Linked DNA regions of Homo sapiens: regions 2, 3, 4 and 5 are each linked to region 1. Evidence: fine-mapped expression QTL. A gene starts in region 1. Each other region holds a variant in brackets. All regions are shown on one strand. Distances are between the middles of the regions. Region 1 holds the start of LYRM4 (LYR motif containing 4). Region 2 overlaps LYRM4 (LYR motif containing 4). Region 3 overlaps LOC105374894 (a long non-coding RNA gene). Region 4 overlaps LYRM4 (LYR motif containing 4). Region 5 overlaps LYRM4-AS1 (LYRM4 antisense RNA 1).

Region 1 (5,104 bases):
TGATTATTTTCTTTTAGCCTCTCCAGGCAATGATGTCCAACACATTGGTAAACCATTTTAAATAAAATAATAAGGTATTTTTATGAAGACTTGGCTCAGAATTAACTGGGAAGCCTATCACTTTCCTAACTGCAACCATTGCTCGTACTAACAGAGGACTAAGCTACCCAAACTATTTAAACTATACATATTTATTTGGAAAAGTTTTATTTGATTACAACAAAGTTGAGTAATTTAGATACATTAATTATGTACGTTAATGATTAAATTCCTTGATAATTAGGTAGAAACAATTGTATATAGTAATTATTCCAACTTTACTCTCAAAAGCAAAATATAATAAAATAATGTAATCTTTGCTATTTTTAAAAAAGCCAAAATAATCTTCAAGTTTTTCCTTTTCACTCTGATAGCATTCTCTATCAGTAACTTGCATTAATGTTGTAGCTTTGAGGTGCCGCATATCATTTCATATCACTGGCACACAATAGTGTATCAAGAGAAATCAGCTCTGAATCTTACTCTATAACAATGTGCAATTGCCTTGGTCTTGGATCCTTTAAGAAATAGCAAAGGGAAAACTCAAAAAAGTCCTTTCAATAAAGCAGAGGCTAGATTTGCTCAATGACCTGACCAACCAGGAAGTAATAGAAGTTTTGCTATCCTGTTTAAAAAATAATAATAAACAATAACAGACATGAGATTTTCAAGAAATCAGGGAGGAGACTTAAAGATATCTTAATAAAAGTATTTTCTCTTCAGTGCCTTTTAAAAAATGTCATTGCATCAGGATTAGTAAGAATATCTGGATGCAAGGACACCAGGTTGCAAGTACACTAAAGAATGGTAAGGTCAGAGAAGTGTTTTTTCTGCCTTTAAAGTTCCTGAAAATAGAGGCTGGGCGTGATGACTCACACCTGTAATCCCAGCATTTTGGGAGGCCGAGGCGGGCGGATTGCCTGAGGTCAGGAGTTCGAGACCAGCCTGACCAACATGGTGAAACCCTGTCTCTACTAAAAATACAAAAATTAGCTGGGCGAGGTAGCGCGCGCCTGTAATCCCAGCCACTCAGGAGGCTGAGGCAGGAGAATGGCTTGAACCTGGGAGGCATAGGTTGCAGTGAGCCCGAGATCCCGCCACTGCACTCCAGCCTGGGCGACAGAGCGAGACTCCATCTCAAAAAAAAGAAAAGGAAACAGAAAAGTTCCTGAAAATATAAAGTTGTTTAGACATACAGCAGGTATATCGTTTCAAAACCAAATACACTAAAGCAGATGAGAACACAACCGTGACCAAGTGGTTCGGAGAAAGATGGATTTTAATGCAAAGTTGTTTTGTTTTCACGCATAACGTACTTCTCGCTGTGCTTGAGTGCAGAAAGGTGTGGTTCTTCCTAAGGTTGATTACATAAAGCAAGATTCCAAAAACAAGAAAAGTGCTTTGCAAACACAGTAACTAGGACTGGCTGAAGCTTCCTGCGTCCAGTGCCATGCTCAAAGATCAGAACAAGCAACTTTATCCACCACTTTAATAAGATGATTCAAAAAAGCTGCAGTCTTCTGAAGAAAGCCATGGTTGAAAACTTGCTCCGCTTCTTGGAGAAAGCCTAAAGCCCTAAAGGTCTCTAATTATTCTCCAAAGTCTACAACCCAAGCTGCATTTTATGCATTTATTAGGTTACAAAACCACGGGAACTCTTCACTCAAAAGCAAAAACACATCCGGAAAGAGGAAAAAATCCACGGCCAATGTAAACCCCCTACAACACCAACCGCCCACGTCGTACCCCAGGCTGCAATGAGGCCGGCACTCACCCACCGCTCGCCCGGGAAGCCCAGACCCAGGTGTTTCAAAATCAGAAGTACGGCAGGCTCGTTCGCTCTCACGGGCAAGAATCTTAAACCCCAACTTCAGAGATACCCGCGCACGCTGGGCGCTGCCATTTTGACAGAAAGCGGGCCTGCCCCAGAGGCCCCTACGCAGGTCGCCCTGAGCAGAGCCGGAGTGCCACAGAACCCCTAGCTCATCACCTCCACACCCAGACGTCGCATCCCCCGGCCTGAGGAATGCCAAGAAACCCCACCCTGCCGACCAGGATCAGGCGAAATCAAGTCACCCTTGAAATCCCGCAAACTCTCTCAGGCAGCGCCGAGGGCGACCGCAGCCGGCGTGGGAGGGGCATCGGCGGTCAGGGGCGGGGCGTCGGTGCGGCGGCCTTCGGTAACCCGGGCAACGCGGCCTCCTGGATGTAGGAAGGGGCGCTGCCCCCGAAACACAAATGTCTCCGCCAAGACCCCAGACGGTTCCCAAAGGCTCTCCGTGATGCAACTGCACGTCCCTCGAATGCCTGGGCCTCCGATATCCGTCCGCCAGGAGCTTGGCTGGATGCACGGGCGGCCAGTCCTCTTATTTCCCCGCCCTCCCGCCGCGTGGAGCGGCTGCTGGGTCCCGAGCCTCCGGGCGGGGGCGGGATCGGGGCGGGGCGGAGGCATCTCCCTCCCAGCACCGCCCCCTTAGCTGCCCCGAGCCCTGCCTGCGCCCGCCCCCGAAGCGGCGCGGGACGCCTGGCGCCGTCCGCGATCCGCAGGGCTGCCCGCTTAGGCTTAGGCCCGGCCCGCTGGCAAAGCCGAGCCGCAGCATTTTATTTCGTTCGTGGTTTCCGCACAGGCTGGAGTTTCGTGGGTTGGGTCGTACTTGGGACCTCGGCGAAGAGGACCCGTTTATTTTTTTTTCTTTCCAAAATGGCAGCCTCCAGTCGCGCACAAGTGTTATCTCTGTACCGGGCGATGCTGAGAGAGAGCAAGCGTTTCAGCGCCTACAATTACAGGTGACCCAGCGGGCACCGGGGGCCGGGGGCGGGGGGCCAGGGGCCGGGGACCGGGGGTGCGGGCTGACGCGGAATATCCCCGGGGACTGGGAGCCACCGTGGTTTGCCGGCGGCTGCGAGGCAAGGACCGGGCTCCGCCATCGAAAAGCGTGCTCCTGCCTACAGGTGTGGCCTCTGAGACCTCGGGGAGGAGCCTTTCTTTCTACCAGGGGAGACGTTCATGTCTTGTGACGTTTTCCCCCTAAAGGCTATCTTGGTAGTTATTCTAGGAGCATGATTAGTGTTATGTTTCTGCAGAAGAGAAAAAAGGGATGGAAATCAGTCATTTGTGAAGTTAAGGCCAGTGTGTTGCATATGTAAAACTTCCCTTGAGCACTGGAAGAGTTGAGAGTGGAAGTGGCCAGTGAGTAGTACACTGCGACAAAGCTGAAGGCACACTCTAGCACCTCCCTAAAATTTCCTAGGTGTCGTAATGAGTTCTTTTGGTTGCAAGAATCCATTCTATTTAGGGTATGGTGGAAATGCGTAGCGGAAAAGGAAAAAGGGTCTCACAAGCTTTGGAGCTGAAACCTCAGTTTCTCCTGGCTCACCAGACAGAGATCCCGCTTACTGGACCTTGACAGCAGGATATTGAGGGCCTAAACTCACATCTTTAATATAACACATTCACTTTTTCTCACGCCTCCCCACTCCCCTATTTGCCTATGAGTCTTTTATTGTTACTCTTTGTATGTTTTTTCTAATTCAGAGCCTCTGCTTTCACAGTGTTGCTGGTTCTGACCCATCATTTTCTTATGGATTCTCTCTCTGCATTTTTTTTTAGATTTGTTTTTTGTTTTGTTTTGTTTTTACTAACTACCTGTCTCTCTCTGAGTTTGAGCCATATTCCCATGAGAAAGAATCTGGTTGGATCAACTCATCTCTTTACCTCAAGCCTCACTTAGGTGACTGGCCAGACTGTGGATTGGATGTCATAAGAGCAGAGCCTACCCTTGGAACACACCTGGTTAGGTAGGCCCCCCTCCAGCACGTGTGTGAGCTGGCAGGCCCTGAGATGGGTCTGCCCAGTACAACCTCTGTCAGAGGACAGGAACGCTAAGCCTCTTAAGCAATGACTCTCAAATTTTTAGAAACCCGCCTGGAAAATATACTCATGCTGCAAATTTGAAAACAGCATCTGGGTCATACCACTGAGGTTGTATCCACCCAGTTAAGTGGTTAAATTTCACGGGAGAGAATGATTTTACTTAATGACTTTGACTTTGGAGAATAAAGAGTGTAATAATAAGCATACTGGTGGAATTTTAGCAAGAATTAACCAAACACCTAGCACCAAGTACTTAACCAAGTCTGTTGAGGAAACACATGAAATATGCAAGTTAAATAAATAGAAACCATTTGATTTCACCATAGTCTGGAGTAAAATAGTTTGTCATTAAAGCTTACTCAGGATACACAAGGACTTGGAATCAGCAGGCAGTTCACACACTAAGGAAAGTGGCAGGGAGAGGGTTTATGTGAGAGCATGTAAGAAAGTCAAGGTGGAGCCCTCGAAGACTAACTTGGACAAGTCTCTCAATCTCTGTATTTCAGTTTTCTTGTTTATGAAATAGACTGTTGGACTAGACAATCTCTAAGGACCCTTCCATTTCTGAAATTCTCTTTGGAAATGATTTATGAGCAAATGAGGCCCAAGCGTTTTCAAATGAGTAATTGCCAACTGAACAGGAAAATCATTCACGAAACTCAACAGGAAAATCATTCAAACTTTAGGAAAATCATTCAAGACTCTACCTGAAAGGCAGAAAATTGAAAATGGGTTTCAGTATGGGCAACTGTAAGATCATATGCATTCAGAAAATAATTGATCAAATTATACCTTAAGCATATACTTTTAAGCTAAATTTACTATCCAAATATAAATATATTATCCAAAGGAATCTGATAATCATTTTATACTGTTACCTGAGATCATAGACCTAAAAACCGACATTCCTGCTATTACCTCCCTAGATAAACTTACTTGTTATAAAAATACGTCCTTTTACATTAAGGCTGTGTCTTGTGAATTTCAGGAAAAGTCCCTTCCCTCCTCTCTAATCTCTGCAGCTGTTTGTCACTGATGGCAAATCAATAGCAACACAACATCCACTATCAATTCTGTGTGCCACTGCTATCTTATGTTCTTCATGTCTATTAACACATTTGTTTTGACAATAATCTTGTGAGGTAGGTACTATTTGTATTACCCTGTAAGGCAACTGAGGCACAGGGAGCT
Region 2 (5,104 bases), 85 kb after region 1:
TATATGCTTTATTCAGCTTTTGAAACGGTGGATTCAAACTGCCAGTAAACTTCTTTCCTTAAAAGGAACTCACTGTATTTCAACGCTTTGTAGCAGTGAGGTACAATCAGAGGAAACTCTTTTTTTTTTTTTTTTTTTTTTTTTTTTTGAGACAGAGTCTCACTCTGTCGCCCAGGCTGGAGTGCAATGGCGTGATCTCAGCTCACTGCCACCTCCGCCTCCCGGGTTCAAGCGATTCTTCTGCCTCAGCCTCTGGAGTAGCTGGGATTACAGGTGCAGGCCCGGCTAATTTTTGTGTTTTTATAGAGACAGGGTTTCACCATGTTGGTCAGGCTGGTCTCAAACTCCTGACCTCAGCTAATCCACCTGCCTCGGCCTCCCAAAATGCTGGGATTACAGGTGTGAGCCACTGCACCTGGCCTATTTCTGTATTTTTCATTCCCCGCTCCACCCACTACTGCAGAAAGTAGTTTACTTTTAGAAGCTTAATTAAAAAAAAAAAAAAAGAGTTATGAATCCCTAAACAATTTTTTTAAGAACCATGTGAGAATTCCTACATCCAGGTGTTAGCTTTCAAATTATTTGCCTTAGAGGGTCTGTCTGTTTATTCCAATAAACTTCCTTTTCAGAATGGCCTTCAGTTTTAGTTTATGATACACATAAGAAAATTGAGTAGTATAGTGGCCTCTTTCTTCATACTTGACTCTGAATGACTTTTGACTGTTACCAAAAAAATCTACCCTCAAAGGATGCAACTGCCAACACAGACAATATACAAAACAAAGTATGTGTGATTCAATAAATATTGAGTGCCTACTATGTTGCCAGGTGTTCTGCTAGACACCAGGGATATAAGATGAAAAGACAATTTTAGTCACTGCTCTTAAGCTGGTGACACTCTTAGGGGAAGACAGACATTCTCACAAGTAATTAAATACTTAGTTAAAAAAAAAATAGTGGCATATGTGGGTATAGTGAGAGCCCAGGGTGAGCAGTGGCTTTCAGAAATGTTTTAAACAAAGACGTCATCCCCAGAATGCATTATCCCCCAAGTTGGCAGTGTTGAGGAGCGCGTGAGGCCTAGTATGTTCTTGGAAAGAAATCTTTATTTCCTGAGAATCACTTCTCATCCCTGTATAAATGCATCTGACCTGTTTGTAAGAGTATGAAACAGACACTGCTATGTGTGATAACTTGTCCTCGAGCCCCTCAAACTCTTCAGAGAAGATAACAAGTCACAGCATCTTGTGACTCTAGTTGGATTTTTTTATTAGTCACGGAAATAACCTGGTGCCGTAAGGATACATTTGACAGCTGTAGCTAAAAGGATTAAAGAAAATACATAAATGAAAGATTCCTCAAGCCAGAGCGGCAGGACAGAAACAGCATGTCCTAACAAGGCAACGTGGGAGACTGGGTCTAGAGGTCAATTCAACAATGGTCACCTGAATGATCATTGTGTTGACACCAAGAGCTTGTGTCTCACTGAATGGTGCCCCCTAGAGAGGCAGGCAGTGCCTAGGAAGGGGTCATCCCGGAGAGCTGGGTAGGCTTTCCAGTCAGATGACTGAGTTCCAAGCGATTAAAATGTTTGGGTGCAGTACTCCTCCAAGGACATGCTTATCCCTAACTGTTACTGCATTACTAGGAAAACTTCTTTGTTCAGTCTGTAAGAGGACTGTGGCATTTGAGGACAGCCTTAAGAAGATATTAAGTAGCAGAGAATCTTCTACGCTCACCTGTGATTTCAGCAGTGGTCACACCTGTTAAGAGCAGAGTTCTTTTAAACACACGGGGAAGACACAGGAGGCCTTGAGAGTCCTCTGGCAGCTGTCGATGGTGCAACTGTATTCGCACTTTTCCATATTTTCCCTTCCTATTGGCATTCTCAAGTTTTGTGCACATGTATGACATTTACACAGTAGGGGATCTATTGAGATATTTTCAAACAGTCAACAATCCTAATCAAAATGTGTGCTACTGAAATAAGTTATTTGGAGTATTAAAACAAGTATCTTCCTGTGGACAACACTACTCATTTGTAATTATGTGATGGGAAGCTTGGGGAAATGTACAGGAGCTTTCAGAACTTATACTTCTGCCTCATGCCATTGTAGATGAAATTATATACTCACACTTTTAGAAATCTGAGATACACATTCACCAAAACTTTTAACCACTGTGAAAGAAACAGATAATCAGCTGTCATTATCCTTGTGTTCAAGATGAAGACCGAAACTTCATTTTCAAAGGTAACTCTGTCAGATCATAACATAAGCACACTTCCTTCAGTGCTTCAGGCCTCAGTAACAGCCAAGACTTATTTCTAAACCACACTGCTCATCAGGGTGCAGTCTATGAAAACTGCCCAGGAAACCTCCTTCCCATTGGTTCCTGAGGAGGGGAGGAACGGACAGCAGACAGGTGAGTACTCAATTTGATTATCTCAGGTAAAGCTTAGAACCCAGCAAAGGCTAACAGACAGTATCACTGGTAGCACCAAAGAAGCCATTTCAGATAATTTCTTAGTATTCCGTAGGCCTTAGTATACCAACAATCTGTTTCTACCACCTTAAAATTTAATAGCGTAGGCCAGGCACGGTGGCTCATGCCTGTAATCCCAGCACTTTGGGAGGCTGAGGCGGGTGGATCATGAGGTCAGGAGTTCAAGACCAGCCTGGCTAATATGGTGAAACCCCATCTCTACTAAAAATACAAAAATTAGCCAGGCATGGTGGCACATGCTTGTAGTCCCAGCCACTTGGGAGGCTGAGGCAGAAGTATAGTTTGAACCCGGGAGGCAGAGGTTACAGTGAGCTGAGATCACGCCACTGCACTCCAGCCTGGGCAATAGAGCGAGACTCTGTCTCAAAAAAAAAAAAAAATTAATAGCGTAATACAACCACCATTTTTGTTATAACTCACAGATTATCTGGGCCGGGAATGCTGATAGTGCACATGCTATCAGCCATAGCTGGGAAGACTGTAACACTGGGTGTACTCAAATGGCTGGGGTTTGGAATCACCCGGAGACAGGTCTGGTGCCTAGGCCAGGATCAGCAGCAG[C/T]TGTAGAGCAGAATGTCTGTGTGGCCGGGGCTTCCTCACATCGTGGTAGCCTCAGAGCAGTGCGACTTCCTACTTGGTGGGCAGAACTGCAGAGGAGAGTGTTCTGGAGGACAGAGCAGAGCTGTGTGGCCTTTTGTGAAACAGCCTTGGAAATATGTAGTTTCATTTCTGCCATATTTTTTTGGTCAAAGGAGTCACAGGCTCAGATTCAAAGTGTGGGAACATAGACCCCCGATTCTCAATGGCAGGGGTGTCACAAAATGTGTGACCCTGTTTTAAAACCACCACAGGCCCCCTCTCCTTAGTATTCCACTGGCCCTTTATCCTGGAAACCTCAGGAAATGGTTTTTCCTGATTTTCTTCTTTAATTCTCCTCTCCCATCCCTTCCTCAATCCAGTTCAAGGATAAGGGCCTAGAACTCCACCTGTGTCCTATTCCCTCTTGAATCCACAGGTCGAGCAGGAAAGTGAAGGATGAGGCTGGCATGTGTAGAAGTGCCAGTGGAGGGCGCTGTGGCTGACTAGAAGGCCTCTACGTTTTAAAGGACAGCTGTTCCAAACGGAGGTGGGAATGAAGTCCTTGTGTTTCCAGATTTCCCATTTTAATGTGAAATTAGATATTGAAATATTGCTTCATAATGTTTTAAAAGCATACCATGAGATCTGGGTTTATGCTCTTGTCTATGCACTGGCTCTGAGCCCCTCTTTGAAAGACCCAGAACTCATAAAACAAGGCATTATTTAAGATTGCACATTTATGTTTATCCCCAGAAATTTCCACATTGGGGTCTGGAATGCCATTGCTTCTTTAAATACTACTTACTTTAAATCATATTTGCAAAGAATTCTTGTAACTGAGAATCTAGGCGCTCAATAAATAGACCGCATCCTTCCTTCATCTGCACATGAATGGCAGCATTTTGTGCATTAATTACGTGTGTGATGTGTCTAAGCTGAATTGGCTGAGGAGCAGAACTTTAATGATTAGCTGTATAAAACTGAAAGAGAGCTTCAATTTTGACGTTAAGCCTTGCTTATCTTTTATATTCTCAGCCTTTCTCGACGTTTGTTAGAATTTAAACTTGTCCTAAGCATGACAACATCTGTTCAAAAGAGAGGGGGGATAATATATGTTTATATATACACACCTTAATTTAGTATTGGGGACCTTCCAGTTACCAATTATAAGTGTAAAGACTAAATAAAAGTTATAGAAAATTAGACAAAATAAACAGTGACCAAGAGAAGATTTAAGAAATCTGAAGCTAAAGATTTATTTTTCTGCCTGCCCTCCTTGAAGTAACCATTAAGTTTATAAATAGCCTCCTTCCTCTGAGAAGAAAGGTCCTAGTGACACCAAACAGGATGCGACGCGCTGAGTACTCTCCCCTTTCATTTTGAAACTCGAGCTTTTGTGAAGACTATCATTGTGCATCCGTCTGTCTCTCCTCATTACCACTTCTGGTTGGAGCCGGAAGCAGGACAGATGCATATAGTCCTCATTTCAACCACAGGAATTGACTTTAAAGGTGACACTGTCCTTAGTAACACAGCTGATGCCCTGTAGGGGTAAAATTAGTTGTGTTTTCTCTGTGCAGGTGAAATTTTAATGAATTTTTTGATACTCTGTAGAGCATTCACTGCAAAATGCGTTGTAAGCTCTAAACACCAACAGCTGATTGTGAAAGACTCTTTATTTTTTCTTTGCCCTAACTTAAAAAAAAACAGAGAATGTTTCCAGAGAATCTACTAAGGAAAACATCAGGTCTGACAACAAAAGAGAACTGAGAGAGCGAAGAGGAGGCAGCTTTCTGCACTTTGCACACTGGGTTGCAGTTCTCACAGAATCCTGGGGCTCAGGACAAAATGGAAGCTTCCTCCTTGGACCTGCATTTACCCCAGGCCTCGAAACAAAGCCCCCCAGTCTATAGTTTCCAGTGTCACTTCACAGATCTTTTCATACCACAGCAACCCATACTGCCAGGAATCTGCCTGTTGTCTCCAGCACAGCTTCCTATTGAAAGCAACTCTATGTCTA
Region 3 (5,104 bases), 710 kb after region 1:
GTGTACAACATGTTGTTTTGAAATATGTGTATATTGTCACATGGCTAAATGGAGATAACTAATGTATGCATTATCTCACCTACTTATGCTTTTTGTGGTGAGATGTAACTTGATCTTAAACAACCTTCAAGACTCAGCTCAAGGTCTCTCCCCTCCACAGACCTGAAATCTAGTTTTCTGTCTTTCATTTCTAATCTTCTGGTTTCTCCAAATGGCTTCCTTTCTTAAACTCCTAATTTGTGTTATTTATGAATTCACTTTGCAATTCATCATTTCTGTCTTGTAAGTAGATTTTATGATTGCCTTGTCTTAGAGTGAACATATTTCAATGGGTATTAGTATAATGGAAAGTTTGTAAGCTCCCTGAGAGCAAGGATTTTGTACTTATTTGTATGCCCTAGAGCAGTGTTATTCATGCTGGTGTGCAGATCAGTGTCCATCAGCAAGCAAGATCTGAAATGAGAACACAGCAAGAGAGAATAAGAGTTGAGTAATGTTCCTAGTAACAGGACATTGGCATGGCATCCAAGCATGTGTCATGGGCTTTCTTTTATTAAACAGGGAATAGACCAGATTGGGTGCTGTTGAATTCTTGTGGTGAGTCCCATCTGGTGCAAACTGCATACAAGTCACTCATAGTAGGGCCACACATCACACTGCATGGATTGGGAATGACAGCAGCTGCACCTTCACCTTAGATAGTTTGGTCAGCAGCACCTGTAGAATGGAACCCTGCACACTGCAGGTGCTCCCAAGGTGCTAGTACATTGATAAACACTACAGATAGGACACATTAATAGCTGTGTTTTTCTTTTCTATCCTTGTATAAAAATCAGAAGTATTAATGTAGTTGCAATGCAAATTCAATTCACGTTAGGTATACAACCCAGATGTTACCTGGGCTACCCTGACCCTTAGGAACAAAATGGGCCTGTGGCTTATGATTCTCCAATTATGGAGAATCAGAGGTCTTCCTCGAGATTTTTTTTTTTTTTTTTTGAGATGGAGTCTTGCTCTGTTGCCCAGGCCGGAGTGTAGTGGCACAATCTTGGCTCACTGCAACCTCTGCCTTCTGGGTTCAAGTGATTCTCCCTGTCTCAGCTTCCCTCGTAGCTGGGATTACAGGCACCCACCACCACGCCCAGCTAATTTTTGTATTTTTGTAGAGATAGGGTTTCATCATGTTGGCCAGGTTGGTCTCGAACTCTTGACCTCAGGTGATCCGCCTGCCTTGGCTTCCTACAGGCGTGAGCCACCTCACCCGACTCTTCCTCGAGGTTTATGGAAGGCTTTGGTATGGGTTTTCCCGACCATGTCTTCCCCAGCTCACAGGGGGCCTTACTTCTACATCGCGCCATCCCATGCTCCCCATCGCCTTGACCCAGATGAGGGAGTTCAGCCGTTTTACTCATTTTCACAACTCCCCTTGCTCTGAGGTAGAAAAAAAAAAAAACTCTCACTAAAGCTTTTGTGTGGATAACAGACTTTGCTGAAGTTTGGGGGAGACAGACCAATTTTTGTTCCACAGAAGTATCATATTAAAAAACTCATCGCTCAAGCTTTTCACCACTTCTCATGCTTCCGGATGCTACTCAAGGGTCGAACTTCCTGCTCCTTCCCTCGTGCTCTCACCTTGGTCTCCTGTGGCTGACATAATCCATTCCTCTACCCTTTCCTGAGTCAGGCCCTCGACGAATGCTTTAATTTCCTCCCCAGGATGCTAGTGCAGCCATCGTCACTCACTGCCTAGATAAAGAAATTTGAGGCTGTATTAGTCAACCCGAAACTCTTGAAATCAATCCGACATTCTTTCCACATTTCGGCAATGTGCGCTGACTGCTCATGAGACTGTGGTCCTGTAAGAAAGAATCAATCCACACCTCACACTCCTTTCTGCTTCTGGGAGCTAATGCCGCCAGTGCAGTGATACATGGAAGTGAAATGCAAGCATGATTGGCTCCATTTACCACCTAGAGCCCCCTTCCCCATCCCATTACATTCCTATATAAGAATGGGGTGGAGTGATTTTTTTCCCCCATTATACGTATGAAAATCACCTGTCTTAAATGACTAGCAGACTCAGCTGCTCCTTTCTAAGGTGGGAATTCTCTTTGTCACTCACTCATTGGTGGTTAACATCCATGGGCTC[G/C]TGGAGGAAGAGAGAGATGGTCCGTGGTGGCTTCATTTGCAGAATAGTCTGAAGCTTTTTGGGTGTGGAGGTCACTCTGTCTTGCTATGTTCTGTGCTTTGACAATGAAACTGGGTCAATGAAAATTAGACTTACTGGGGCCTTCCCTTATTCTGTGGGGGCTGCTTTTCCTGCCTATTATCCATCATATTGATTTTTTGTTGCAAGACTTGTCTCTGTTATGTTTTCAGTAGCTAAGAGCCAATGATGCTGCCAATTGTGGCATTGTCAGAGAATCCAGGGAGCCGAGTTGTGGTCTAACAATAGGAGAAAAACCCATATAACACCGGGTGATGTCATGAGAGGTGGATGAAGGCCATGCTTGTGTCCCTAGAACTGAAAGTCTCAAGATGGGTGATCACCCTCTTGGAGCCAGAGGTCATTGATCCTGCTAATCCTTCCCTCCCAGAGGAGAGGTAGGGTGTGGAGCCGTGGTGGCAGCCATTTCCCAGGAATGGAGTGGCAGAGGGAGCCGAGGGGCAGCAGCAATTTGCCTCACCTTAGGGTGAGTCTAAGCCGAGAAGAAAAGAGGGAGGAGGAATGGGGGAAATGGCTACGTGTCACCAGGACTGCCATTTACTAGCGACCGGGGTAAGGCACTTACTCCACCTCTCTCAGAATAAACTCTTAAGTCCTATCCCCTACCTGGCATTTGCATTTTAAAAATCCTCAGCAGCTTCTTGGGAGTAGGTGGCTGGCACTTTGTGCCCAAAGTCTGAGAGAAGAGGAATATGTGAGCCAATTTCTGTGGTTTTGTTCTTGGGTTTTGTCTCATGTGACGAAGGCAGAGTTGGTGCAGCCAAGCTGGAGTAGGCTGAGGAGTTTGGAGGAGGTGACTTTTGAGCTGGTGTTCAAGCTGGAATAGAAGTTTGTCAGGCAGATACAAGAGAGGTGAGCAACGCTGGGCAGTGGGTACCACACATGCAGACTGATCGACTGACCCTAGTCTCTCTCCAGCCCAAGTGCAAGTGGCAGAGAACATTCCCTGCTGAGATTTTTGCAGAAGGAAGCAGGAATCACAGTGGCTGAGGTAAACTGAGCCAGGGTTGAGTCTTGAAGTGACTGTTTGGGATGCCTTCACTGCTGCCTTCCAGCTTGGGAGGGCAAAGCTGACCTTTTGGGGACTGGGAACGTGCTTAGCTGACTGGCCCACCACCACCTGCACAGTTTCCATACTTGTACTGGTCCGCAGGGCATTGCCTGAAAAGGATCCCGGGCTACACTGTTGTGTTCATTGACTTTGCAGGAATCCACGCATGCAGTTGCCAAAATCCACGAGTGGCAGGATACATTTGCAGGATACATTTGCAAGATACATTTGCAGGATACATTTGCAGGATACATTTGCAGGATACATTTGCAGGATACATTTGCAGGATGTTTTATGGACAAGTGCATCCTTTAGTCCCTGCAACTGAGGTGAGCCACATGTCACCCTGAGCCACTGTGCTTTGTGTTCAAAGCTCATTCATTCCTCCTCCCACTTCCTGCTGATCCTTGCCTTACCTCTGGCTGTCCCTGGAAGGTGGCTGCTTGTTATCTGTGACAGCCCAGGAAGAGGAAGGAGGAGAGGCAAAGCTGGAGAGGGGCTGGGAGGGAGGAGAGGAGGGAAACATCGGTAAACCCACCATTATGCACCTTGCAGTCCCTGGAGGGCTATCAACAAAGCTCCCTCCCCAGCTCTGCATCTCTCCCAGAAGTAGTCTCTTTGAGTGGGAGCAGCAGAATCTTTCTAAACCTCCTCAGGCATTATTATGTGGATCTGAGTAAAGAACCACCCTGTAAACCCACGGCAGAGCTATGCCATGACTCTGGCCTGTTAGGGAAAATTCTATAAACTGGCTCTCTCTTGAGTCACCAGTATCATTCATTCACAAGATAGTTTGGGAGCTCCTCCAGTGGTAAAGGCCCTGCAAACTCCTGGGGATAACATGAATAAGATGCTTCTGAGGGTCTTACTGTTTGGGGGAGGGTGAAGGCAGTGTGATTATTTCAATCTCTCAAAGTGTTCTGTGGAGTGGACTCTACTATTCATATTTGACAGGTGAGTAGCATGAGGCTTTGCAAGGTTGATGCACCCAAGACCACCCAGCTGATAGGTAAAAGAGCCAGAATTCAAACTCAGATCTTTTTGATTTGTAGTTCAAAGAGGTAGGTGAAAGAGATATTTACCTTCTTTGTCTTATGTGACAAAGTCAGAGTTGGTGCAGCCAAGCTGGAGTAAGATGAGGAGTTTGGAGGAGGTGATTTTTGGGCTGGTGTTCCAGCCGGAATAGAAGTTTGTCATGCGGATACAAGCGAGATGGGCACCCCAGGCGGTGGGTACCACACGTGCAGAGGTGGGAAAAACCAGCTGCAAGGTCTACCTAGGGCTGCCAAAGTCCTGCCTGGTAGGCGTGTGGGGTAACAAAAGGGCCTGGCACACCATTCTAAGAACAGGTACTTTCCTGAGGGTGTTGAGGAGGATGTGGGGTGCAGGGGGTGGTTAGAACGGTGTCTTTCAAAGATTCCCTGCAGATGGCACCTTGGCCAGGACACCCAGGAGACCCTTGGGTGCTTGAGAAGAAGTGCTGTCCAGTTAGGTGGAGCCCTAGGTGACTGGAGCCAGGAAAAGCCCCAGATAAGGGAAGCCAGGAACCCTAGGTAGATGCAGTCCCACCTGATGGAGCCCCAGTTAAGTGGAGTGGTGGTGAAGGCTCATGTGGGTGGAGTCCCACAGGGTGGACACAGCCCCAGGTGGGTGGATCCCCAGGTGATGGAGCCCCCAGGTGGGTGGAGCTCCAGGTGGGTGGAGCCCCAGGTGGGGGATTCCAGATGGGTAGATCCCCAGGTGGGTGGAGCCCCAAGTGGGTGGAGCCCCAGGTGGGTGGAGCCCCAGGTGGTGGAGTCCCACATGCTGGAGCCCCAGATGGTGGA
Region 4 (5,104 bases), 120 kb after region 1:
TCAGTGATCAGCACAAGAGTAGATTATAGTCTGTGTACACATCCAGTTAGGTTACAGTTCACTGCATACACAGAAACCTTTAAAATATGTAAAGAGGCAGCTTTAGGCCAAACTTAATTTAACAATATCTTGTTAATATTAAACACAATCATAGCAAAAGTGTCGAAAACCAGTCAAGTGCTACTGTTTTAAATCGAGCCAAACATTAACTTTTATCTGATACTCCTCATTGTCCTACTCCAGTTTGTATTTGTAAATACAGTGTGACCTGTGTCATGAATGAACCTTAATATTCTGTTGCCTAACTTTGAATGAAGCCTGCGCCTTCGTTGGTCAGAGTTCTGGATATGATATGCTCACCATGTTTCCAGAGTTGCTGGTATTTCTCCAGTTAGCGAGGTGGAAATGCAGCGGTGCCTGGGAAGATCAGAGGCACTGGGCTGGCAGGCCTGCTTTGCCCTGCCGCTCACCAGCTATTGTCATTCAGAACAAGCTACTTATGCTCTCCAGGCCTGTCTTCTTCTCCCTACCGCAGAGATGTCAAAACCTATTTCCAGAGAGTGTTAACAAGGACGACATTCAATTACATCTACAAAGTACCTAGCATAAGTGCCTAGAACATAGTAGGTACTCAACGAACATCAATATTACTCTTCTTTTGAGATCAAATTCTCTTAGGCTTATGTGCAACAATCACTTTGAAGTCCTCTGATTGCTCGAAAGACTTTCTTTAAGACTTCAAAGTATTAACCTGATTGTGAAGAGCAAAATGTCTATGTCTAAAGGATTAATCTCATTTCTAGCTTTTAACCTGTCTTAAACACCTCTAGCACTTGCTTCTGTTTGAAATCCCAAAGAACTCTTTCTTTCTGTTAACTGTTACTCTTAACTTTTATTTTTTTCTCTTTTTACCCCCAGGCATAAAGTCCATAGTCATTGTCTGCCACCAGGTTTGTTTTCTATTGCATCTTGATATTTTCTTGTGTTTTCAGTGGGGAGCATGTTAGAATTCCTTAATATACAGATGTCATAGTATATAAGGTTTTCTTGTGACTTAGTCTGGAAATCATTCATAAAAAAAACAGTCATTATTCTTACTGGCTACTGATAAAAATTCTTTAAGTAAGAAAAACTATCGATTTTTTTTTTTTTTTTTTTTTTTTTTTTTTTGGAGACAGGGTCTCACTCTGTTGGCCCAGGCTGAAGTACAGTTGGCATGATTACGGCTCTCCGCAGCCTCAACCTCCCCAGCCTCAGGTGATCCTCCCACCTCAGCCTCCCGAGTAGTTGGGACTACAGGCGTGTGCCACCATGCCCAGTTAGTTTCTGTATTGTTTGTAGAGACAGGGTTTTGTCATGTTGCCCAGGCTGGTCTCAAACTCCTAGGCTCAAGCAGTCTGCCCATCTTGGCCTCCCAAAGTGCTGGGATTACAGGTGTGCACTACCACACCTGGCCTTTGAATATCTTCTATATATAAAATCTTGGCAGAAATGTCTTCTTTTGTCATCATGAAATTTACTTTCATGAATCCTCCTCAGTGCCCCTTGTCTACCATTAGTCTTTATAGAATCCTTTTTGACCTGCTGAAAGACAGCACCATTGTATTTTTCTTTGCAACTTGTGGAGCCACCACCTTCCCCAGTACGTTTTGACCAAAGGCAAAGTGAACTCTGCACCACCTCAGGCCTCTGAGTAACACAGTGGAAAGGGGTGAGAAGACTTGGCTATTGTGGTTTGCAAAAATGGCAGGATGAATGCTCCATATCCTCCCTCAAAAATACATTCACATGAGGATAATTTGGGTGGTGGGCCACAGGCAGCTTGCAAGGACAAAGCCTGTCAACTCTTACTCCAGTGTGTGACCTGAGTGGAGATGTCTACAAAAGAGCAGGAATCCTGTCTTTGAGAATAGGGCAACAATCAACTGGGTGGTTTTAATTATTCAGATAGAGTCACAGGACATTAGATGCA[G/A]AATATTAAAATCTCCATCATTCAGGGGAAATGATCTTAAATACAGATAGAGGCATATCACTAGCCGGGTAGCAGAGTCATTATTTAAAGGACACTAGAGTTCCTCTGTGAGGAGGAACTGAGCTCAAAGAAGATGTTCAGTATCAATGCAGTGAGATTACAGAGTACAAATCTGAACACCTTTGTAAGCTTCTCACTAAGTGGAGGAGTGGGGCCAACTCCAGGAGCTTGGTTTTTGCTTGTCTGAGAATCTCTTGACAGGTCCTAGAAGCAACCATTCTATGTTGGGGCTTAAAAAGAAGAGGTAGTGTGATCCAGCAATCCCACCCCTACATGTATACTCAAGAGAAATGAAAACGTGTCCACACAAAGACTTATATGCAAATATTTATTGAAACCTTATTAGCAATAGCCAAAAAGTGGAAACAACCCAGATGGCCATCAGATAATAAATGGATGAGCAACATGTGGTATAGCCATACAATAAAAATATTATTGGTGGTAAAACGGAACCAAGTACTGATACATGCTAGAACACGGATGGCCCTTGAGAACATTATGCTACGGGAAAGAAGCCAGACACAAAAAGTCACGCATTGTGTGATTTCGTTTCTGTGAAATGGCCAAAATAGGCAAATGCATCGAGACAGAAAGTGGGTTAGCGGTTGCCAGGGGCTAGAGAGGATGGGACATTTGAAAGGCGACTAATGAGTAGTGTTTCCTTGGGGGTAATGAAAATGCTCTAAAATTGATTGTGGTAATGGATGCACAACTGTGAATATACTAAAAACCATTGAATTGTACACTTTAATTGGATAGATTTGATGGTGTATGAATTATATCTCCATAAAGCTGTTAAGAGACATCAGGAAGAGACCAGAGTTTCTTCTGTGCGGAGCCCTCTGCCACAGGAAAGGAAGGAAGTCTACCCAGTCTTCCTACAGGCGCTGCTCCTTGGGGCGGTTTAGCATGTCATTACCACAGACTGTGGCTAGGACCTGTGGGACTCATTTGTAAATGCCACCTTCTTTGACAACACCTGGGATTGTTGAAATGGAAGTAATCGATTACTAGAAGCCATTAATTGAAAGCTGTGTGCCAGGCATTGTAGTAAGACATTATAAATACCATCTAACTTATGTAAAATTGACATTATCCCATTCTGTAGGTAAGGAAACTGAGACTACAGGGTTAGGTGAAACCCAAGGTTTCGGAGCCAGTGATTGGCAGAGCAGGTGTTTAAACCAGGTTTGTCTTGGGACAAACCCCAGGCTCTTAAGTACTACATTATCGTGTCTTCCCGCTTCTCCACCCTCAACCCAGCCCCAGTCAAAAAGGCAGCAGGAAAGGGGACAAGTTATCATTTAGAAGAATACTGATTTGGTTTTAAAAGTATTGAATAGAATGACCAAATGATCTAGTGATTCCATTTCTCAGTATATACCCCAGAGAACTGAAAGCAGGGACTCAAAAGGATACTTGCCCACCAGTGTTCAGAGCAGTATTATTCACAACAGCAACCCAGTGTCCCTCAACAGACGCCTGGATGAACAAAATGTGGTACAGCCGTACAATGGAATGTTACTCAGCCCTAAAGAGGAAGGAAATTCCGCCACACGCCACAGCAAGGGTGAACCTTGACGACATTGTCCTAAGTGAAATAAGCCATAGAAGAAACAAATGCTGTATGATTCCACTTACGGCGGTCCCTAGAGTCCCCCTACAGACGGAAAGTAGAATTGCGGTTGCCAAGGACTGGAGGGGAGGGAGAATGGAGAGTTAGTGTTTAATGGCTACAGGGTTTCAGTGGAGGAAAATGAAAAGATTCTGGAGAAGGATGCTGTTGATGGTTGTACAACAATGTGAATGTACTTAATGCCACAGAGCTGTACACTTAAAATGAATAAAATGATAAATGTTGTGTTTTGTGTATTTAACACACACACATACACATCAGTATTGTGTGTGTTTGAAAGTCTAGAGCTAGAAAGCTTTTTTGAGTATATTTAGCAGGAAAACTTAAAAGAAAGTTCTCGTCTTTGGAGGAGACAGGCCTGAGGCATCCAGAGGAAATGAACACCACCTAGGGAGCCAGTTCCATTCCCATGAAAATCACACCTGGAGCGATCCGCACCCTCCACAGCCCCAGGAGCGATCCGCACCCTCCACAGTCCCGGGAGTGAACCGCACCCTCCACAGCCCCAGGAGCGATCCGCACCCTCCACAGTCCCGGGAGTGAACCGCACCCTCCACAGCCCCGGGAGTGAACCGCACCCTCCACAGCCCCGGGAGAGAACCGCACCCTCCACAGCCCCGGGAGCGATCCGCACCCTCCACAGTCCCGGGAGCGATCCGCACCCTCCACAGTCCCGGGAGTGAACCGCACCCTCCACAGCCCCAGGAGCGATCCGCACCCTCCACAGTCCCGGGAGTGAACCGCACCCTCCACAGCCCCGGGAGTGAACCGCACCCTCCACAGCCCCGGGAGTGAACCGCACCCTCCACAGCCCCGGGAGAGAACCGCACCCTCCACAGCCCCGGGAGCGATCCGCACCCTCCACAGTCCCGGGAGCGATCCGCACCCTCCACAGTCCCGGGAGTGAACCGCACCCTCCACAGTCCCGGGAGCGATCCGCACCCTCCACAGCCCCGGGAGCGATCCGCACCCTCCACAGCCCCGGGAGCGATCCGCACCCTCCACAGCCCCGGGAGCGATCCGCACCCTCCACAGTCCCGGGAGTGATCCGCACCCTCCACAGTCCCAGGAGTGAACCGCACCCTCCACAGCCCTAGGAGTGCCGTTACCAAGGGAGAGGAAGGAGAAGGAATAGGGATGAGATCTCTTAAATAGACATTTGATGACATTTTCCCCAATTTGTTAGTTGCAATGACGAAGACTTTTTGCTGTTTAACCTGTTATTATGGAAAAATGTGAAAATATACAAAAGTATGTAGAATTGTCAAATGAGTCCTGTGTATCCATCACCCATCTTTAAGAGTTAGATACTCTGTAATATCAATAGATGGTATTTTTCATCCTTACGCCTACCCATGCTCTCCCGTATTGTTTTGAGAAACTGTGTATTCGTTTTCATATTAAACTATTTTGGTACATATCTGAAAAGATGATTC
Region 5 (5,104 bases), 160 kb after region 1:
ATTCCTTCTAGAAACTGCCAGATACCTTAGGGGATGAAGAAATGGACCAAACATGGATTCATCCCTTAATCACAGAACGTTTTGCGTTGTCCTTAAGACATGTATGTAAATAGCTGTACGAGTTCTGTAAATTCCCTGGGAGAGGCACAGATAAAATAGGGCTGGAAGAGGGAGGGAGTAATATTCAGAAGGAGGAACTACTTCTACCTGAGCCATAAATGCTAGGATAAGGGGTGTGGGGGTTATGTGGTGGGGAAGGGAGCTGCTATGCAAGGGAACAGCGATGTACGGCAGCGATGTGCAGTGGAGCAGCTAGGGAGAGATACACAGAGTGGCCACTGAGAGGGTAGGGAGACCAGCTAGGGCCCTGTGGCAGGCACGGAGACGTAAGGGGACTAGGGGCTGGCAGAGGACGGGGCAGTGTCTGTGTGGGTCAGATGGAGAAGAAAGAATGAATCCAAAAGGCATTTCCAAATGATGGACTTGATGAGCAATGGAGACACAGAATAAAGGATGGGGGCGAAGCAAAGATAACACCAGCACTTTGATCCTGAAAGACTGGCAGGGGGACTGCCCCTCACTGAAATAAGAGGCAACAGCACATCCCCTTAACAGGAACACACGTCCACAGGCCCACACCTCACTCATCGCTGTATGCCTGTGTTTTGCAGAGTCCTGGTTGCAGTAGAGACATTGGGGGTGTCAGCCAAGCTCACAGGAACCCCTTTTGATCCCTCACAACAGGAGTTGGGGGTTCTTGACCACCATTTTGCATCATGACCCCACCCCCACCTCTAACCACAGCTGATGGAACTGGGATGACACCTGTCCCCAAGTAGGCGAAGTACTTTCTCTTAGAACTAGGAGTGAGAGCTGCTGTTTCTGTCTGGGATTCTTGCTGGAGCTCAAGTGACACAGGCCTGGGAGGTCCAGAGCAGTCATCTTCCATCCATCATGTAGACAGGGGAGAAGAGAAATCCGCTCTGGAAGGAGAGACGTATGCAACCTCAGAGAGCAGAGATGAGGCAGGGACCGTTCCTGCTGGTTCCAGGGCTCCATACGTCCTGGCTTCCAGGCCCTGGAGAGGCCCCATGGCCCTTAGATTCCAGGCAAGAACCCAGCATCCATGAGCCAACTCCCCTCCTTGCTGACGCTGGCTTGTATCAGTTTCTGTAACTTGCAGTTTGGCACATGCTGGGTTTTATTGAAATATGGAGCCATATTGAGGCCTGCAAGAGGTAAGTTCCCATTTTTTAGTAGGTAAGTTCCCTACTGAGAAGGGGACCGCGTCCTGCTGAGTCCTGCAGAAGAGCCACGACAGGTCCAAGATGGTAAAGAGAGGGACACTGGCCTCTGGTCCAGACATTGACAGGTCTAAATGTCTAGGGCTGCATCCTGAGGAGAGACCAAGGAGGAGAGGAGGCACCCAAGCAAAATGTCCTTCCTGTGGATCAAGTGCAGATACGCTGTCTTCTCTGTGTGTGTATTTGTTTGATGAGTAGATGGTTCAGAGCAGTGGATCTGGGTCAGATTGACCTGGGTTCAAATCCAAGCTCAGGCTCTTACTTCCTGGCACATGACTCAACCTTTCTGACAGTCAATTTCTTCAGCTGTAAACTAGGAGTGATGTGCCAGGTGCGGTGACTCACACCTGTAATCCCAGCAACTCAGGAAGCCAAGGTGGGAGGATTGCTCGAGGCCAGGAGTTCAAGGCCAGCCTGGGCAACATAGCAAGACCCCATCTCAAAACAAAAGAAATAAAAAATATGAAGATCATAGAGACAGAATGTCATCCTGATAATTGACATAGGCTACAAGGAACAACATTAGAGTCAAAATTGGTTCTATCCCAGCACTTTGGGAGGCCAAGGCAGGAGGATCACTTGAGCACAGTAATTCAAGATCAGCTTGGGCAATATAGTGAGGCCTCATCGCTATAAAATATAGATAGATAGATAGATAGATAGATAGATAGATAGAGAAATAGATTTTTTTTTTAATTAGCCGAGTGTGGTGGCACGTGCTATAGTGGTCCCAGCTACTCGGGAGGCTGAGCTAGGAAGATCGCTTGAGCCCAGGAGGTGGAGGTTGCAGTGAGCCGAGATCATGCCTCTGCACTCCAGCCTGGGTAACAGAGTGAGACCCTGTCTTTAAAAAAAAAAAAATTATATAAGTATATACCTTCAACTAACCCCTTCAAATCCAAGGGAAACATGAGTCTGCAAAGCAGATGCACTGCCCAGATTGTAGCCCCCACTGGTACAAGAAGAGAGACAAGAAAGCCGTGACCCACCCACCCTCAGAACCTCTGAGAGATGCGCTTATGCCACCAGTCAGTGTGGACAATGGCTGTCACCCACCAAGCGGGTCACTGTGAGCAGCACTGGGGGTGTTGGTGGAGGGGAAGAGACCACAAATATGGGAAAAGTCCTCTCGGCAACCAGATGTGAAGAATAGGTGTTCCTCCAGCCCACTCCCCATCTGAGAGTTAGGATTGAGTAAAGTCATCCAGGAAAGTGGCATCACATCCTATGAGTACCTAACCAAGTGGAAAGCAGCCATTCCCCTCAGCAAGGGAGAGACACAGTTGGCAAGTGAGAACACCAGGGGTTCTGCCCGCC[A/G]TGGTACTGATGGGTGTGTGCCTCGGGTGATGTAAGATGAGGCGCGTGGACGTGTACCTCCCTCACCCGGTTCTGCCCACCCTGCCTCAGATGGGCTGTTGCAGCATGCATTGTTTCCAGCTTTTGACTATGACAGATAATGCCACCGTCAATATTCTTGTGCGTGTCTCCTGGTGCTCGTGTGTACACACTCCTGTACCTAGGTGGAATTTCGGATCATGGGGTTGTTCTGGTTCAGGAGATACTGCCAAACAGGTTTGCATAGGGACAGGCCCACTCCGAGGGTATGTGTAAATGGGTTTGCTCATGAGAATGGCATTGATGTGAAGCGGGGATCTCTGGGCCAAGCCTAGGATGAGAAGCAGCTCTCTGCTGTGGGCAGCCTGCAGCCAAAGGCAGCCTGGCCCTACATCACTCCCGAGCAGAGCAGAGCCACGTGCCTGCTGGGCCTGCCCTACCAGAGACTCACAGTGCCAACTTTGGGGAGGCTGAGGGTCCATCTGAATGAAGAAAATGCCATTTCCTTACATGTGTGGAGCTGGCTGGGTTCGGAACGGAGCAGGATGTGTAAGCGCAGAGACTATCTGTAGATGTAGGCGTGGAGTTGTCCGTATAAATTAAGGTCCAAGCTGGGTGCAGTGGTGCACCCCTGTAGTCCCAGCCACTCAGGAAGCCAAGGCAGGAGGACTCTGCCTGTCCCAGGAGTTCAAGGCCAAGCTGGGCAACATAGCAAGATCCTATCTCTAAAAAGAATTTTTTTTGTATAAAAACACACACCAAACAAAAAGAACAGACACCAAACAGGAGGCCCCTCAAGAGTAGCTGCTTTAGATCGGGTGGATAATCTCTGAAGAGGCTGTTGTAAGGAAACGCAGTGTATGTAAGTGATATTAGTGTATGTACAGCATGTGTATGATGTCGTAACAATGTGCATGCTTAATACACATCTGCGGTGGTTTGAATATTTGTCTCCCTTCATTGCTCCTGTTGAAACTGAATCCCAAAGTGGCAGTATTGAGAGAATGGGCCTTTAAGAGGTGATTGGGTCGTGCAGGCTCTGCCATCATGAATAGATTAATCCATTAATATATTAATTTATTGGCCGGGTACAGTGGCTCTTGCCTCTAATCCCAGCACTTTAGAAGGCTGAGGCAGGAGGATTCCTTGAGCTCAGGAATTAGAGACCAGCCTGGACAACATAGTGAGATGCCATCTCTACAAAAAATCAACAAAAATGATCCAGGTGCGGTGGCTCATGCCTGTAGTCCCAGCTACTTAGGAGGCTGGGGCTGGAGGCTGGAGGATCACTTTAGCCCATCACTTTAGCTGCCATGAGCCATAATCGTGCCACTGCACTCCAGCCTGGGTGACAGAACAAGACCCTGTCTCAAACATATAGGTATATTAGACTGGTGGCTGCCATGAGCCATGATCGTGCCACTGCACTCCAGCCTGGGTGACAGAACAAGACCCTGTCTCAAACATATAGATATATTAGACTGTTGGCTTTCTAAGAAGAGGGAGAGAAACCTGAGCAAGCCTGCTCGGCCCCCTCACCATGTGACGCTCTGCGTCACCTCAGAATTCTGCAGAGAGTCTCCACCAGCAAGAAGGCCCTCACCGCATGCAGCTCCTTCACCTTGGACTCCACAGTCTCCATAACTATAAGACATGAATTCCCTTTCTTTATAAATTATCCAGTTCCAAGTATTCTGTTATAAGCAACAGAAAACAAACTAAGAGCGTCCCACCATGTGGACAAGAAGCAAATGGATACTTTCTGCCCAGGTAACAAAAACAGTTTGTCTGGTTAGCACACTCAGGGCTACTATCATTTGTTCTCCCAACTGGAAGATTCAGTTATGCTTCCTACATTCAGCTGGAGCCAGACAGTGTTTATCCTCAGAATAAAATCAGCAAAAACCAAACTGGCAGAGGCCAGAGGGAAAAGAGAAAGATGTTGAGACCAACGGCTTGCTTGGCACTTCACAACTAACTTCCCTCAGTGCTCACAACAATCTATATTAGGCAGGAGTTACCGCCCCTATTTTGCAAGCATGAAAACTCACTCACACTATTTTAAGGGTCTTATCTGAAAGCACTTGGCTAGCCAGGGGTGAGCTGGTGGCAACTGCAGGCCTGGCTGTCCTAGAGCCAGTGTCTCATCCCCACACAGGCCACCTCCCCCATAGCTAAGGGTACTTCTTCACCAATGCTTTATACACTTCTCAGTGGTAGGGTTGGATTTTTGTGTTTGTTTTTTTGAAACAGTCTTGCTCTGTCACCAGACTGGAGTGCAGTGAAATGATCATAACTCACTGTGGCCTCTACCTCCCAGGCTCAAGCAATCCTCCTACCTCAGCCTCTCAAGTAGCTGGGGCTACAGGTGTGCGCCACTACAACCAGCTAATTTTTAAATTTTTTGTAGATATAGGGTCTCACTATGTTGTCCTGGCTGGTCTCAAACTCCTGGCCTCAAGCAA

The links. PIP is the estimated chance that this variant, and not a neighbour inherited with it, causes the effect.
Region 2: its variant is the best candidate, but not a certain one, in a credible set for the expression of LYRM4 in testis (GTEx, PIP 0.81).
Region 3: its variant is the best candidate, but not a certain one, in a credible set for the expression of LYRM4 in monocytes after LPS (Kim-Hellmuth 2017, PIP 0.72).
Region 4: its variant is the best candidate, but not a certain one, in a credible set for the expression of LYRM4 in caudate (GTEx, PIP 0.64).
Region 5: its variant is the best candidate, but not a certain one, in a credible set for the expression of LYRM4 in spinal cord (GTEx, PIP 0.71).

What each region holds. Positions count from the first base shown.
Region 1 is chr6:5,258,370-5,263,473 of GRCh38, reverse strand. LYRM4 (LYR motif containing 4) reads left to right here and starts at 2,524. Exons shown (of 3, transcript NM_020408.6): 1 at 2,524-2,826. The coding sequence starts at 2,741. FARS2 (phenylalanyl-tRNA synthetase 2, mitochondrial) reads right to left here and starts at 1,961. Exons shown (of 7, transcript NM_006567.5): 1 at 1,814-1,961. RefSeq lists silencers at 2,444-2,663, 2,724-3,033 and an enhancer at 3,244-3,293.
Region 2 is chr6:5,173,849-5,178,952 of GRCh38, reverse strand. All of the region lies in intron 2 of LYRM4 (LYR motif containing 4), which reads left to right. All of the region lies in intron 3 of LYRM4-AS1 (LYRM4 antisense RNA 1), which reads right to left. Among named protein-coding and RNA genes, the nearest start is that of MIR3691, 28 kb to the right of the region's middle. The variant C/T (reference allele first, on the strand shown) is at 3,067.
Region 3 is chr6:4,550,268-4,555,371 of GRCh38, reverse strand. The region is part of intron 2 of LOC105374894 (a long non-coding RNA gene); the gene reads left to right. Among named protein-coding and RNA genes, the nearest start is that of KU-MEL-3, 58 kb to the left of the region's middle. The variant G/C (reference allele first, on the strand shown) is at 2,150.
Region 4 is chr6:5,134,554-5,139,657 of GRCh38, reverse strand. All of the region lies in intron 2 of LYRM4 (LYR motif containing 4), which reads left to right. The region is part of intron 3 of LYRM4-AS1 (LYRM4 antisense RNA 1); the gene reads right to left. Among named protein-coding and RNA genes, the nearest start is that of MIR3691, 11 kb to the left of the region's middle. RefSeq lists a silencer at 1-103. The variant G/A (reference allele first, on the strand shown) is at 1,973.
Region 5 is chr6:5,096,268-5,101,371 of GRCh38, reverse strand. The region is part of intron 3 of LYRM4-AS1 (LYRM4 antisense RNA 1); the gene reads right to left. It also overlaps a transcript of LYRM4 not described here. Among named protein-coding and RNA genes, the nearest start is that of PPP1R3G, 13 kb to the right of the region's middle. The variant A/G (reference allele first, on the strand shown) is at 2,622.